2 separate regions of the Homo sapiens genome follow, and region 1 is linked to region 2. Evidence: fine-mapped expression QTL. A gene starts in region 2. The other region holds a variant in brackets. All regions are shown on one strand. Distances are from middle to middle. Region 1 overlaps HLX (H2.0 like homeobox). Region 2 holds the start of LINC01352 (long intergenic non-protein coding RNA 1352).

The links. PIP is the estimated chance that this variant, and not a neighbour inherited with it, causes the effect.
Region 1: its variant is the best candidate, but not a certain one, in a credible set for the expression of LINC01352 in esophagus muscle (GTEx, PIP 0.64).

Annotation. Positions count from the first base shown.
Region 1 is chr1:220,882,654-220,885,562 of GRCh38, forward strand. It overlaps HLX (H2.0 like homeobox), which reads left to right. Exons shown (of 4, transcript NM_021958.4): 4 at 1,542-2,406. The coding sequence ends at 2,051. Among named protein-coding and RNA genes, the nearest start is that of HLX-AS1, 4.0 kb to the left of the region's middle. The variant C/T (reference allele first, on the strand shown) is at 1,178.
Region 2 is chr1:220,827,814-220,830,722 of GRCh38, forward strand. LINC01352 (long intergenic non-protein coding RNA 1352) reads left to right here and starts at 1,442. Exons shown (of 4, transcript NR_110797.1): 1 at 1,442-1,629; 2 at 2,880-2,909.

The DNA of each region.
Region 1 (2,909 bases), 55 kb after region 2:
CTGATACACTCAACTGTAGTGCAATTCGCTGTAGGAGGCAGTTTATTTCAGAAAAGATAAAAACCCAAAGGCAAGAGATTGTTGTTGGGTTTTTTTCCCTCTCACCCTCCCTCCTTCCTCCTCCTCCTGCTGCTTCTGCTGGATTGTGAAATCCCCAGTTGTGAGGAAGTGAAAATATAATTTCAAACGGAATTAGTTAGCTCCAGGAGGGCAGGGAGTCTGCTTGGAGTGGCCACACATTACAAGGCTTAGGCTCTGAAGAAAATCTGAAGGAAGGGGAGAGGTGAGGGAAAGAAAGAAAGAAAAATGATTCTCTTAGAATACCCAAGAGCATTTCAGCAGGTTCTGCCTATTTGAATTTTTTCAAGACAATAGGAAATGTATTGTGGCTGAAATAATTTTATTCTTTTTCTTAAATTTAAGAACTGGGCTTCCCCACCCCCCACCACCCGAGCTTTGACTGTGGAAGAGTCACTCTTGTGCACCCCATAGCACTGGCTCTGGCTCTGGGGTGCTGATTTTCCCCAGCAGGTCAGAAGCCAGAGGCAGGCTTCTTTTTCTTAGCTCCTTGGTCCCCAAATTGCTGTCTCTGTTTCTTTCTGACCTCCATTACACAACTCTTCTCCCCAGTACACACACACACACACACACACACACACACACACACACACACACACACGAGGAGCCCAGCCGTTTTCCACCAGCTGTGGATGTTATTTTTAAAAGGGAAGCTGGAACTTGTGTGAATGCGTTGGGTCCCCCAGGGGATCGTATATATCTGTATAGATTCTCTGCCCCATCTCTATCCCCTTCCTTAATTTTGCACACATTTAATTCCATTGTTTTCTGAGCCCCCAGGAGAATTTGTTTATCCTTAACAGGGGCAAGGTCCTTATCAGCTCTTGCGTACAAACACACCAAAGAAATGCTGTCTTACTGAAAGCCCAACAATGCCCCCACCCTACTGTGATTAACAGTTTAAAACCCCTTTCCCTTTCTGCTTCCCATGTTTCCTTTTTTGAAAAAAGTATTGCTTTGGGTAGTGGCAGTAGAGGAGAGGGCCAACTTAGAGCAGGAATTCTTAACACTGGCACACCAAACCCTTGACATTGTAAGCAATATCTTGGGCATATGTGTATTTTTCTGGGCTAGGAGTCCATAACTTTAATCAGATTCT[C/T]ATGGGGGTCCTGGCATAAAAAAATTACATGGATTTAGAGTAGAGAGAGAGTATGTTGGGGGTCGGGTGCAGGAATCTGCCTTTCCAACAGTCACTCAGGTCATTTTAGTCCTGGGGCCTGAGGGTTGCATTTTGAAAACGGTCTTAGTGGGTTCCCTAGGCCAGGATTCCTGGCTTCTTGTGTTCCCCTGGGCTGCCCCTTGGCTCCTGCGCCTACCACAGTGTCTGGTCCTTGGTAGAGTCGCCAAGTAAGCGTTGCTTTTTCACTCAGGGAGGTGGCTTGAGGGTGCACGCGAGTCGGATAGGAGCAAACCTGGGTCTCATCTCGGTGTCTCTTCTTGTCTCCCGGTGTGGCGCGGCGCAGGTGAAGGTGTGGTTCCAGAACCGGCGGATGAAGTGGCGGCACTCCAAGGAGGCCCAGGCCCAAAAGGACAAGGACAAGGAGGCTGGCGAGAAGCCATCAGGTGGAGCCCCGGCTGCGGATGGCGAGCAGGACGAGAGGAGCCCCAGCCGTTCTGAAGGCGAGGCTGAGAGCGAGAGCAGCGACTCCGAGTCCCTGGACATGGCCCCCAGCGACACGGAGCGGACTGAGGGGAGTGAGCGTTCTCTGCACCAAACAACAGTTATTAAGGCCCCGGTCACTGGCGCCCTCATTACCGCCAGCAGTGCTGGGAGTGGTGGGAGCAGCGGCGGCGGCGGCAATAGTTTCAGCTTCAGCAGCGCCAGCAGTCTTAGTAGCAGCAGCACCAGTGCGGGTTGCGCCAGCAGCCTTGGCGGCGGCGGCGCCTCGGAGCTTCTCCCTGCAACACAGCCCACAGCCAGCAGCGCTCCCAAAAGCCCCGAGCCAGCCCAAGGCGCGCTTGGCTGCTTATAGACTGTACTAGGGCGGAGGGGATCCGGGCCTTGCGTGCAGCCTCCCAACCATGGGCTGGGTTTTGTGCTTACTGTATGTTGGCGACTTGGTAGGGCAGGAGACGCAGCGTGGAGCCTACCTCCCGACATTCACGCTTCGCCCCACGCTGCTCCGACTGGCTGCAGCGGACACTGCCCAAAGCAGAGGGGAGTCTCAGTGTCCTGCTAGCCAGCCGAACACTTCTCTCCGGAAGCAGGCTGGTTCGACTGTGAGGTGTTTGACTAAACTGTTTCTCTGACTCGCCCCAGAGGTCGTGGCTCAAAGGCACTTAGGACGCCTTAAATTTGTAAATAAAATGTTTACTACGGTTTGTAAAGGCCGCTTGGCTTTGCTGGGGGTTGTTAAGGCCAGAGATCTACAACCGGACCTTAGTCCCGGGGACACTGTAGAATGCAGCAGCTGAAGGTGGTGGGGCTGGAGTTTCAGGGGAAGTGGCTCAACCTCAGAGCCATCTTGTTACAGACATCAGAGATGGGCGTCTGGGTTTAGAGGCTTCTAATTAAGAGATTTCTAGCGCCAACTGCCACTGAAAGTGCCCTCTGAGACCCTGAGTAGCCTGAGAGTGGAGCAGGCCATAGAAACTGTTAGGCCAGTGCAACAGATGGTTTCCCCATTCACAGTATGGACGAAATGAGTTCCTAGAGTACTCAGAGTTGGAATGGGGAAGGCAGTGATGCCAGGCGGGGTCAATCTAGGCACAGCTGTAATCACTATGTGGACGCGAAGCGCGGGCCCAGAGCCCTGCACAAACTTTTCCTTGTTCCGGGATGGGGTAGAGGACAGGTTTGCAATGTTGCTGAGGAAAGGACAGACATGACA
Region 2 (2,909 bases):
GATAAGCAACTTCATTTGCTTCCTCCCTTATTACTCTTTTGTTTTGTGTTTAGGACTCTGGTCTCCCCTGAGGTTGATCTCTTCTTCTGGGGACAACAGCCTGCAGGGTGATTTTGAAAAGCAGGCTCTGACTTCTACTTCCTTGTCCTGTACTCACCCCACCTGGTGTAATTCACCGTAATGCAGTGAACTTCCACATGGCTGCTGGGCATGCTTCCCAAAGCCAGCCCCTGGGCAGGGTTTCCCTTAATTTAGACCCCTGTCCCTACCTCTCCAAGTGCAAAGTGTACAAGGCTACACGCCCAGCTGCCCCCCACCCCCATACACACACTGGAGAGACCAAATGTTTGAGATCACTGTTGGGTAGCTGGGTCAAGAGAGCTTCATAACAATGTTGTTGGCATGTGGAGAGCTTTTCTTTTTCTTGGATCCCAACTGGAAATTATCAGCTTCGCCCCATGCTGACATGCGAATGTCCAGGCCTGCCTTTCTGCTGCAGGGCAATGCTCCAGGTTACAACATCGACACCAAGCAGTTTGTTGAGAAAACTTTGGACCTCATGAGCTGGGCAAGAGCGGCCTGGCAGGTGGTAGGAGAGCAGCCTGTCCATGCCTCAGCTGTGGCTCCACTGGCTCTGTGACTGTGCAGATTTTCTAACTTTTGAAGACCTCTGTTTGGATATCCATAAAATAGGTAAGATGGTGCTAATACCTACCTGTGATGTTGTGAAGATTTAATAGCATAATACTTAAAAGCACTTTGCATACATTAGCAAAGTGCCTAAATATTAGTTATTTGGCGGAGGCTATTAACCAGTGTGCTATGAGGTGCAAAGTAAGTTGTTACCAATAACTCAAAGAACTCCAGTTTGCAAATGTTTTACTTTTACTTAAGAGAATCTTTGCGGGAGAATTAAAACCAATTAATTCCCACCACTGGCCAAGAGCTCATGCTGTAATTATCCAAGACAGAATAGCTCAACAGAAAACCAAGTCATGCAATTCTGAGCACTTGTCCTTGGGATGCCACTTTGGGGCTCCCATATCTGAAATCATTTTGTTCTCAGTCCACCTGTGTGACATTTCTGTCCTGCTCAGCCACGGGTTCACAATAATCAAGGGAATGACCCAAGGGATTCACTTCTTCCAAGCAGCCGATGCCTTTGGAAGTTATGTTGACATTGCTTGTTTAAACCTAGGGCAAGAAATCCTTTCTCTGCCAGACCTGACTCTTCAGGCACACTCCTCAGTTTGGAGACGTGACTTGCCATGTAGTACTGAGAGGGAAAACAGGCCAGAAACAGCCTTGTTGAAAACTTCTTTTCTGCTTAGCTGCCCTCTGAACAGTCACCATAAAGATTGTGAGGTGCTGGAGCCAGGGATGACCTCATAAAGCCCTTTGCTAAATACTTAGTGAGCTGGTACTGTGGGCCAGGCACTGTGCTCATCATGAACAAAACCAAGGCAGACAACACTGTCATTAATGGAGCTTATCATGTAATACGGAAGCCTGGGATAAGCAACAAATTACACAAGTGACAAATGTGATGAGTGCTGTGAAGCAGAGTGCGGGGTGCCCAGGGAATCAGCAGAGCCCTGGAGGATAACAGCCTGAGCTCCAGGAAGGAAGGTTGTGGTGGTGCTTAGGGTCAGAGTGGGGACAAGCATTCCAAGCAAAGGGAAAAGCACATACACATGCTATATTAGTCAGGTTTCTCTAGAGGGACAGAACTAACAGGATAGATGTATAAATGAGGGGGAGCTTATTAAGTAGTATTGACTTGCATGAGCACAAGGTGAAGTCCCACAATAGGCTGTCTGCAAGCCGAAGAGCAGGGAAGCCAGTCCGAGTCCCCAAACCTCAAAAGTAGGGAAGCTGACAGTGCAGCCTTCTGAAGGCCCCAGAGCCCCCGGCAAACTGCTGGTGTAAATCCAAGAGTCCAAAAGCTGAAGAACTTGGAGTCTGTTGTTCGAGGGCAGGAAGTATCCAGCACGAGAGAATGATGAAGGCTGGAAGACTCAGCAAGTCTACTCCTTCCATGTTCCTCTGTGTGCTTTTATTCTGGCTGTGCTGGCAGCTGATTAGATGGTGCCCGCCCAGATTGAGGGTGGGTCTGCCTCTCCCAGTCCACTGACTCAAAAGTTAATATCTTTGGCAACACCCTCACAGACACATCCAGGAACAATAGTTTGCATCCTTCAATCTAATCAAGTTGACACCTAATATTAACCATCATACATCCCCTCCATGGGAAGGAGCATGATGCCTTATATAGTCTACTACCCTCAAACCAATCCTACTCCCTCATCCCCAACACCTTCTTCCCCTGGAACTCTAGATAGAGTTTCTTGACTAGACACATAAGCACAATTAGGCTATGCCTAATTATGAAGCCATCCCGGTTTATACATTTTCTTGTTATACTTGCCTATTTACAAGTTTTTCTTGTGAAAACTTGCCTATTCTTTTTGCTGCCTCCTCTCCACCCTAAAAGAGAAACTCTAAGGAAACACTCCCAGAGTTTATTATAGTTATTATGACTCAGATTTGAAGACTAGAATTTAATGGAGGTTTTCCTAACATTCCTTGGGGACTTGAAGGACTTTTTTTCCCACCAGCCACAGAAGTAAGATTATAAAACATTTATTTATTAAAAGAAAAGAAATCTTCTGGGCTCAAAGTTCTAGTTATTCTAAAAGCAGAGCACTTGTTCCATGTTTTCATATCGCCTCCCCACACCTACCTCTCCTCTCCCATTCTCTATTTCTTTATTTCTGTGCTGTAGTAATAAGCAAAACAGAGAAGCAATTGGTTTTAGTCTTGGATCTTGACCTTGCTGTGTGGCCTTGGCCAAGTCACTTCCCCTTTCTCAGCCTCAGTTTCTTCAAGTGTAAAATGAGAGATTGGAT